2 separate regions of the Homo sapiens genome follow, and region 1 is linked to region 2. A link means that fine-mapping ties the variant in region 2 to the expression of a gene that starts in the linked region. Tissue or cell type: aorta. Region 2 holds a variant in brackets; the other region holds the start of a gene. All regions are shown on one strand. Distances are from middle to middle.

Region 1 (5,381 bases), 24 kb before region 2:
ATACAACTGAGGTTTATATTATTTATAGTACTTAAATAGGTCAGACTGGTGTGTAGACCCAAGGAATTAGTACAGAGTGCTTCTTAAGACTGAAATGTTCACGGCTACATGGTAGAATGCAACATCTTGGGTATCAGCATATGAACCTACTTGTTCTCTGCAGACATTGATACAAAATAATTACTTGGTATCTAAGCACAGCTGCGTTTTAAAATTTAGAATAACAAGCTAAAAAAAAACTCAATAGATGTATGCCAAATGAATAATGGGGATTATAAAAATGGAGTAAAACTTGAACAGACTCTCATAACAAGAGTAGAACAGTAGATGGTAGAATGGCAATACAGGTGATTTGGCTGATCTAGGGAATCAGTTGAAGAGGAGTTTGCTGGACAAGGGCAGAAAAGAAAAATACCAAACTTATGCTACCCTCTTTATACATTAAGATGTTAATCTAAGTAACAGCAGAAATTAGAATGAGTTGTCACAACTAGTTTCAAATTCTTAATTTTTTATCAAAGAATCCTTAAGATAGTTACAAAAATAACACATTGCTTGGGAAAAACACAAGGAGAAAAGGAAGAAAGTTAACAAGAATAACAAAAACCAAATTAATTTTTAAGAATTTCTGTACCGTAAAGACTGGATTTCATTATCTGGCTTAACTAATCAAGTTCTGACATTGGCAATAATGCTAAAGTGAAATAGGAATCCATTACCAGAATTCGTATTCTGATTTGTTCACTGTAGAGTTGTCAGCTGCAAAAAAGGGGATGTTATGATATGCTGAACAAAAAATTAACTTTCTGGTAAATTTTGCTAAAATGTATCATTTTACTGAAAGAGAATAAGCTATAGACTATTGATTTCCCTAAACATTCATCCACTATGAGGTTGGAATGCTCAGTGAAAATTCCAACAATCCAAGTTTCTTGAAGGTTAAGCTTCTTGTACACTTTACTGGTCACATTAGAAGAGCAATGCACATCTTTACTGGTTTACCAAGTCCATCACGCTTGTTTGAGATGCTGGTATAAAAGCTAAGTGCTTATGAGATGAATATGAGTGACGGGCTATGGAAGAATATATGCATTTGTTTACATAAATTATACTAGGCAAATTAACTCCACCAGAGTAAATGTTGGAGGTTCTGCAAAGGGAAGAAGGATGATACCTTGTTATTGATCTTGTTATTGATTGAGGAGAGATGGGAAGGGACCCAGAAGCAGCTCATTTGTTGCACACAAGATAATTCTAAATGCATTTTACTAAATGTAACACTGTATCTCTTCCCTAAAATATTGGACCTCAGACTCCTTTTTGATTAATACACCAGAAAGAGAAAAAATGATTTTGGGTAAAACATACAAGAAACCTGTAAAATAACCATGAATGTAACTTTCAAGAGGTAGGTTCTCTAAGTTCATATGCACACAAAATGTCCACTGCTTATTTAACAACTGGCTTAAAAAAAAACACACACACACACACAATTATAACAGTTTCACAAACCCTTATCTGAACCTTCTGGGGCCAAATGTGTTTTAGAATTCTGAATTTATCAGATTTTAGGAAGGGGATAACTTGGATGTATTATGGAAAGTCCCCAGTGGGGTCTGGTGCTGCAACCTGTAATCAAATCCACTGACATTTCTCCAGCAAAACATGAATATTCACACTTAATGGGATAAAGACCACAAACAGCCTTACATTAGTTTTAGTCAGATCTGGCTGCCCAGTAAGATGTGGTGCCAAACTTACTGAAAACGTTTTGGTTTTCATAGCTTTCTGGCTTTCAGAGTTAAGATAAGGGATTGTGGGCCTGTACCACAGTATTAGTAACATGAATATTGTTAAAACTTAATACAATTTAACTTAAAATAAAAGACAGTACCAAGTTCGTAGGGAATTTAAACATGTTTTATTGTCAGAGGATGTCATTAGATGAAACTCCCCATCTCATTACATAGCTCCCACAAAATCTTTACAAAAAAATTAGCCTCTTGGAGAGGCGTGAAGTTACTGAAAGAGAAAACACGTCACATTCCAAATCTGCAAGTTCTTTTAAGTATGAACTAGCGTGCACGCTGGACTACAAAGTAATTCGTGGAAGGGATTCCCTCATCACAGGTTACATAATTTCACCCACAACATAGAAAAGGTTTATATTACTAAACCACTAGGATCAGTAGAACTGACAACGTACAGAAAACGATCTAAATATGCATTAAGCAGTTAGGGTCCCGGGTCAAACTCTTGCAAAGGAAAAAAATCACTTTCTTTCTACCTAAGGCGGGTTCTCCGTAGCTGTCCAGGCTGGTGGTCACTAGACCAAGAGCAGCTGCCCAACTACAGAGAAGCAAACTCCAACTCCCAGTAGCCCCTGCGCGGAGGCGGGGCGGGGATTTGCCAGGCCCCGAAATGCCAACGCCTGAGCTCGCGGAGGATGGCGGGAACTGGAAGAGCGGCGGTCTGCAGCCCTCCCCTCATACCCTTGCCCCCGCGACCCGGCCCCTTCTCAAGCCCTCTGCACGGTACCTGTCCCCAGGACTCTCTGTTCTCTTTCCCGCTGCAGCATGGGCGGTACTACCGGGTCTCAGATGGCAGCGCGGGGGCGACGACCCCGGGGCTGGGGATGAGGGGAAACCTGGCCTAGCGGGCATGCAGCGCCTTGTCATGTCGGCGCCGCTGGCGACGGCGGCATGAGCCGTGGCTGGAGAAGTTGGGTGCGTGGTTGCCGTCTTGCTGCTGGGACTCCGGGAGGCTGTCGGAGCAGAGGTGGGCGGCACCCCCTTCTCTCTTCATGGCGGTTCTCTCTTCGGAAGTGACTCCGGCGTGAGCGGGAAGGAACCTGGGGACCAGTAAGGGGCGGGTCTTACTTCATGAATCACGTCTTGATTGGCTGGCACGGTGGTCATTTCGGTGGTGGCGCAATAGGAAGCCGCAGCCTCTCTGGAGAAGGCGGGGCTTGGGGACGGGGGAGGAAGAAACCTCCCCCTCCCACCCCGTCACATGCACTGAGGGCGCGCGCCTCTGGTCCCGGCCGCCTCGGCCTTGGCCGGCGCGCGGGGGCGGAAAGGCGCGGGCAGCAGCTGGCGGACAGCTGACGACACCCGCCTGGTTGAAGGCGAGGGGTGAGGGTTTGCTGAAGCAAACCGGAGCCCGGCAGCTGCCTTCGTTGAGGATGGCCAACACTTGGGCTTCCTGTGTCACACAATTGTGCCTCAGAAATCCGCAGCTGTTCATTACATCGTCTCTTTAACAGCTTAGGCCAAAGTGCCATAATACTGTCACAATTTGCTGAGGGATCTGCACAGCGCGATCCGAAGACTTGTCCATTCTACGACGGTTCTTGTTGAGTGTCAGCGGTAGATTATTTTTTTGTCTTTAAGAAGAAGAAAAAACCCCCAAAAAACTCCATTGGAATAAAGACAGTTGTTAATCCACAAAAGCATTTTGTTTCTCATGAGTTACCATGAAGTCTCTGCAGCCGACTTCCTTGGAGATTTTTTAAAGGAACACAAGGTCAGCTTTCAGTTTTCCATGTTAAGCGTGGGCAGCATAGATAAGTAAAAGCTGCCTGCAATCTCCAACCCTCCTTTGTAAAGGGCTTGTGCTCTGGAGGCTGTTAGCCATGGTTTTCCTTATAAACCGAGAGACTGGTCAGTATCTCTGAACCTCAGCCTCCACATCTGTAAAACGGGCATTTTACTCACTTTTCTGGGTAATTGTAAACCATAAAAGGATAAAACAGTGTACACTGCACAGTTCAGATTCTCTCATGTAACAGGTACAGAGCAAATTATAGTTCCCTTTCTTCCCCAGATAGATTCCTACAGCGAATTTTACTTCTTTACAAAATCTTCCAGAGACAGGTCAAATACTGTTGCAATAACTGTTAACAACCAAAATATCAATTTCAAGATGTCCAAGCTTTAATTGACAGAGTTATTTAATCAGTTGGATGGAAAAAAATCTTAAATGATATAAAATAATTTGGACGGGTCTTTCAAGTTTATTGTATAGAAATTGAACTATTGGCCTGATACAGTTGCTCACATCTATAATCCCAGCAGTTTGGGAGGCCAAGGCAGGTGGATAGCTTGAGCCCGGGAGTTGGAGACTAGCCTGGGCAACATAGCAAGACCCTGTCTCAAAAATAAATTAATTAATTAAAATTTAGAAAAAACGAAATTGAACTGTTCTGGTCACTAAGCATGCCTGACTGACTCCAAGTTCACCTCCTTTTCCCTTCCCCTTTAGTCCCCGGGAGGAAGAATTAATAAGGAATAAAGTGGACAAAAAGCTGGCAAAGTAGAGGGTCGAAGGTAAACAGTGAATATACAGGTTTCACATTCACCCCAAAAGCACATATGTACAGCTGTATACTAGCTAATGGTGGCGGAAGAAGGGAAGTGCCAAAATAGAGGGTACTTTTCTGCTCCTAATAGCGGAGAATTTACTATACGTAACATTGTTTTTTACATAAAAAAACATGATACTCAAAATGTGTTGAATGACTTACACATTTGCATTTTACATGTATTATTTCCTATCTCTTAGTGCTTTCTGTTGGATGTTTTTACACTAGGAAGTTTCTGTACTATAACAGAGCACATCTACGAAACATTTAATCCGATTCATTTCCTTGCATGCCTAATCGATAAAGAGTAATGCATAAAAACACGTTCTGCATGATCATTTAGTTGCTTTTCTTGGATTATAGTACTTGAATCATCCAGCCTCCAAAGTATCACTTTAAAGCCTGTACTCAAACTACCAAACAATAGTTTTCTCATTTTCTTAATCTGAGTAACAGATTATGGAGTTAAGTGAGGCAAGAAATCCCTCGATCAATAAATGGAGATGGAGTCATAATGAAAACACAATTTTAAAAATATCTTCTTAACGGGAAGTAGTTATCTAAATCCTCAATAAGCATCAAGACTCTTCTTTGTTTAAGCTGTGTACGAAAGTGGTACAGATTTGGGTTGCAGGGTGAAATATGTTCAACATATTAATAAGAACCCCAGGGGAACTTCTAGGGCCTAGGGCTCTTCTCCACCTCCCACCCCCAAATAGTACTGGACAGTCTATTTTGTGTTTATATCCTTTCTCCTAGTTTAAATGTGTACGTATATACCATGCATGCGTGTGCACGCACACATGTTTATTGTAAGGGTTTTTTACACTTCAATTTGTAGTGGGCTAAAAGGAGATGACCAGGAAACTACACTAGGTAAAAGATTTAAGGAGTTCAGATGCGTGCTTAGGAGGAGCTAATAGGGGAGAGAAAACTAGGATGGCAGGGGGGTTACTGGGGGGAAAGGACATTGAACAATGTAACCAAACCCAGTTAGAGACTTAAGACAAAACTTAGC
Region 2 (5,381 bases):
TTGAGCATGAGAAGGTAAACACAAAAGAGTATATACTAAGTGATTCCATTTCTTTTTTTTTTTTTTTTTTTTGAGATGGAGTCTCACTTTGCTGCCCAGGCTGGAGTACAGTGGTACGATCTGGGCTCACTGCAAGCTCTGCCTCCCGGATTCACACCATTCTCCTGCCTCAGTCTCTTGAGTAGCTGGGACTACAGGTGCCTGTCACCATGCCCGGCTAATTTTTTTTTTTTTTGTATTTTTAGTAGAGATGGGGTTTCACCGTGTTAGTCAGGATGGTCTCGATCTCCTGACCTCGTGATCCGCCCACCTCGGCCTCCCAAAGTGCTGGGATTACAGGCGTGAGCCACTGCACCCAGCCAAGTGATTCCATTTCTATGAAACTTAAAAAACAGGCAAAACTTATTTAGAGAGAGGGTAGAATGTGGCTACTTTTGGGAGGTGGATGCATATTGACTGTGAGGAGACACGAGGGAATCTTCTGGAATGGGGGTCATGCTTCACATTCGATCTGGCTGGTGGTTACATGAATACACATACAGTATACCTTCATCAAGCCAGACACTGTGAACCATCCATTTTACTGTCTGCAAGTTGTACTTCAATTAAAACCAAAAAGGATAAAGGTAAACTTTTCCACACAGAATTCCCCCCTCCACATCAGGGTGCCTAGGATAAGCAGCCATCCATCTGTGGACCTCTGTCTTATGCCTTCTCCATCTCTGAAACACTGAGTTTTCTAGTGCTTTCTAGGCTGGGCTATTGCAATCTGGAATCTACAGCAGCTGCTGCTCATATCATCATTTTCCAGCCCTCCTTTAAAAAACGCATTAAAAAAAATCTTGATGGACTACAGTATTGTGGAAAAGCAACAGACCTGGACCAGCGAGCTCAGACTCCCTCTCCCCGACTGGTCAATGAGAAACCCTGGGTTTATGTGCCTTACCCCCAAAAGAGTTATAAAGTTTAGTAAGTGCCTGGAAAGCAGGCAAGACTCTGCGATGCAATCTGGATCACCCATTACCAATTTGCTTTGCTCATCCACCGTAGTGGCTGGGCCTTATGCTTCCTAGGGGAAAATGAGCAGTTTGAATGCCTGCCCCCTCCTTCTCTCCTCTCCCATCTTATCCACTCTCCTCCCTTTGTTCTCCATTAATGTGTTCTCTAATGTGGGGGTGCCCATATTTGTGGCTATTTGGGGAGAAAACTTTGAGCCAAACTTGGGGCTTCACACATAACCCCAAGTTGTAAGCATGCGATGTAGCCTGCAGAGGTTACAAAAGGCAGATTACCATGTGGTGCTGCGGTTGCAGTTATTTCATGCCATTTTGTATTTCCGCTCTCTAGGGTAGTGACTCACTGCTTTCCAGTTCAATGTGAGGACATGTCCCACAGTGTTGACTGCCTGATGCTCCTGGAGGACATTCCTAACCCACCACTCACCAAGTTATTAGAAATCTAACTCCGAAATCACTAATCCCCAAATAGCCTCTATTCTCTCAACTGCTGGCTTCCTTGCTTTGATTTTATGCACAGTAGTTCTAAACTCAAGGCCAAAAATTCTACCCCATGCCGAGCCACTTTCAAAGGAGAACCAATATGCTAGGACTAGAGGGGGATTTGAATAGCAGCTAATTGTCAGTTTGTCTAGTGAATAAAGCTTCCTCTCTCCCCTGAGCAAGCTGGTTATTTGTTAAAGTTTGCTGGGGTTTTGGAGCACCTCACTGTTAGGGGCAGTTCAAACTCAGCAGTTTTAATTATTAATCAGGTCAAAGGCTGATGACAATTTTTCCTCTCTTCAGGGGAGGGTCTTGAGAGTTCACAGGAGGGGATGTCCAAGCCCTGTCCTGTGACGGGGTGGAAAGGAAGGAGAGAGGGAAACAATTCAAGTCAGACCAGTCCCGAGTTCCTAATGGTTCCTTTGCCCTAGACAGACCGTATTGGAAAGTCGCTTAATCTGCCTCTGGGTTCATTTTAAGCGAATATAGGTCTTCATCCTTTCCAGGGGGTTGTAGCTTTCTGAGTTGATAAAAATTCCAGACTTGATAGAACATGTTAAAATGTTGTACCCTTGCAAATTGGAGTGCAGAAAAGGTGGTATGCTCTTCAAATGTGTCTACTCTGAGGTATCACCTTCCTCGGGGTGAGAATGGGGAGGGGTGCCTTCTGCTTGAGCACATGTAGAAAAGGCGTGAGGCTTTTTCCAGTTTGAGTTTGTAACATTTTCAAATACAGCCCTTCCTCCCACACTTCTTTCCTGATCCCTGTGGGTCTCCTTTCTCCTTTTGGCCTGAGACCCCAACTTGACAAGATCCAGAAAGGTCTCTTTTACATCTGCCTATTTGTTAGCCATTCTAAACTATTCCAGCAGCCTCTGCCTCCCACCCTCGTTGCTAGGCAGATTCCCTGGTTGCTAGGCCACCACTGCTCCTTCCCTGCCTCAAAAAGAGGTACGAATTTCCGGTGACCCACTCAACCATCCACCCACCCACTCACACACTGACAAAACAAATAGGTCCTAAACACCTACTAGATGTGAAACTCTGAGCCCAGCGTAGAACAGTTCCAAATGGAAAGAGAGATGGCAAATCCAGGGGTATCTGATATAGAGGTGACCAGTTGTGGGGGTGATGAGCATGCTGTCTCCTGGGAGTTTTCTCCGGGAACAGCCATAGACTGGGATAATTTTCTCTGACCCTCAGCCTTTTGGGTGCAGAAAACTCATTTTCTGCCCAACCAGAAACAGATCCTTGTCCTAGTGGCAAAAGCATATTGATCAGGCTTGAGAGACTAATGCCTAAAACCAGAAAGTGAATTTATTAATTTATGATGTGAATGAAGTCTGTCACATGGATCCAAGATAATCTACTTTTCTAGAAATGATGGTGTCACCGAAGGATATTGGAGAGCTGGTATAGAGCACCAGTTTGCATAGGAAAGGGAGTATATCTGTATATCTATATTAATTTTAACATTCTTACTATATGTCAGGCAAAATGCTAGATGGTTTACAGATGCAATTTTATTAGTTCCTCCTATCAACCATGAGAGGGAGCTACAAAACACTCCTTCCAATGTCACAGAAAAAGCAGTTCCAGTTAAACGACTTAACTCAGGTCTTCCAGCTAATAGATGACAGGACCAGAATTTGAACCCCAAAGCCCATGGTTGGACCAATGGATTCCAGCTACCTGGCAA[T/C]AGTAGGCTGACACGTTAGCTTGGGGGCAAGTTGGGTAATGGATGCTAAGGCGCTGATGAATGAGCCTGATGGAAATTTCCAATAAATGATGGAACATGTGGAAGTGGAACTCTGTTGAACCTACATCTAGAGATGGGAATTGGAGGCATCATCTAGCATTTAGCTCACTTCTTCTGGAGGTGCTCTGAGAGAACAGTTTCTCAATTCTTGGTGATAGTTGATACGTATTTGTGCTTGTTAGCTCCAGTGTAGCAGTGGAATATAGGAAGGTCATGTGGGCTGGCATCTAAATGGTGGGGAACAGGGGACCTAAGAGGGATTGCTAGGGCTGGGAGCTCAGAAGGAAAGGCTTCTGGAGTAATAGCTTCACCACCATCCTGCCAGACAGACATCAACCCAAGAGTCCCAGCACCTAAAGCTACCAAGAGACCAAGATCTTAGCTTTTTTTGTTGTTGTTTTTTAAAGAGACAAGGTCTCACTCTGTCACCCAGGCTAGAGTACAGTGGTGTTCACTATGACTTCAAACTTCTGGGCTCAAGCTATCCTCCTGCCTCAGCCTCCCAAGTAACTAGGACTGTAGGTGGGTACCACCACGCCCAGCTAGCTTTCTAAAAAATTTTCTTTGTAGACATAGGCTCTCACTATGTTGTCCAGGTTGGTCTTGAACCCCTGGCCTCAAACAATTCTCCCACCTTAGCCTTCCAAAGTGCTGGGATTACAAGTGTGAATCACCATGCCTGGCCAATTTTAGCTTTAAGGAAAGGTAGAAGCAGCCTTGGGGAGAAGGTCGCATGTTTGTGGGTGGAGCAGAGTCACTGAGCTCTCTGGAAGGGGCACCCCGGAACCGGCATAAGAAGGTCGGCAGAGGAGTGCATTCCTCGTTCAGGGGCCAGGTCAGGAGCCCCAACTAGGGGGCAGAGCAGACATAGCACAGCCTAGATTTGGGAGCCAGATTCAGACAGGAGCCTGGGTGGCATTGTTCTGAAAGCCGAGAACTCAATGAGACATGGCAATGGTGTTAACCGCTGTGGAGACAAGAGCGACTCCATCGCGGATGCTAACCCGCCATGTTAACTTATGAGTAGCCCCAGTCCTGAGTGCCTCCTGATTCCTACCTTGTTTGTCTCTAGTGTAAGAACAAAGCAACCCTGATGTTATCGCACAAATTATAGGCTATGACGCATGTAGCATTCTTGCCTCTTCCGGAGGGTTGCCTTGCATTGTCCTGCTGGAGTGTGTGCACCCTTTCTCTATGGTATATAAGCCATGGGTCTGGGGAGTAACAGTGCAGAAATCTACCTATCTTGCATCCATGCAAGACCATGCTTCTCTCTGTAAGTTCCCCCCAATAAAACACCCTTTACTGACAAATTGGATTTGTTTGCCTCGTTCTTTGTTTCTCAGCTCCTTCAGCATTTGGGGGCCACTTTGCACATATGGCCCTTTCCCAGAACAACCTCTATCTCAGGCTAAACTCCAAGCCCTAATGAATTGAGGAAGAATGAGGAGCAAGGGGTCAAAAACCTGTACCTTTTCTTCCTACCCTTCTTAGCCTCTTGTTCTTGCAACAAACTATTCTGGGTCTAGACTTGAATTATGCTGGGGAAGGAATCTGTGTTCCGTAAGTTGTCTGTTTCTCTGCCTTTGTAATTTACTTTTTTGGCGTTCCCCCCAGTTTCCTAGCGAAGTGCTTTTTGAACAATCTCAGCCTTGTCTGGACGCCTGAGATTTGCCCACATTTGGGCCGAGACAGCCAAGGGGTTCCAGGGCCCCTGGAAATTTAGCATGGTGGGGCCAGCAGCTGTCTCAGCTGGATTTGCAGGAAACAGCTGGTGGAGCCAGGGCAGAGAGAGGTGAAATCTCGAGAGAGGAAGAGATTGAGAAACAGAGAGAGATGGGAGCAGCTGCAGTTGCTAAGCTCTTCCAGCCTGGGTTCTTCCATTACAGAGGCCTGCCACCGTCTCCAGCTCTCCCCACACTGACTTTACTCAAAAAGACATAAACAAGTTAAAGTAGTGATGCCCCAGGGACTATAAACAGTGAGCATGGAGAGTATCTGATGGGGAATCAGACCTAGGGTTCTTACCTTAGAGCCTGGGTTGTGTTCACCTGCAAAGCTTAACAGCACCTGGGGTGTGATTCAGTTGGAGGGGGGATTATGCCCCAGACATTAGACCATGA

Alleles and levels. Positions count from the first base shown, and alleles are read on the strand shown. Sizes are in standard deviations (SD) of each study's normalised expression.
With allele C in place of T in region 2, the expression in aorta of the gene that starts at base 2,826 in region 1 is lower (small effect, 0.16 SD a copy in GTEx).

The links.
Region 1: SLF2 starts here. The variant in region 2 is fine-mapped to the expression of SLF2 in aorta (GTEx, PIP above 0.99).

What each region holds. Positions count from the first base shown.
Region 1 is chr10:100,910,408-100,915,788 of GRCh38, reverse strand. SLF2 (SMC5/6 complex localization factor 2) reads right to left here and starts at 2,826. Exons shown (of 20, transcript NM_018121.4): 1 at 2,539-2,826. The coding sequence starts at 2,678. RefSeq lists enhancers at 2,677-2,726, 2,747-2,816 and a silencer at 3,037-3,306.
Region 2 is chr10:100,886,826-100,892,206 of GRCh38, reverse strand. No RefSeq gene overlaps it. Among named protein-coding and RNA genes, the nearest start is that of SLF2, 23 kb to the left of the region's middle. RefSeq lists enhancers at 1,201-1,495, 1,020-2,219. The variant T/C (reference allele first, on the strand shown) is at 3,199.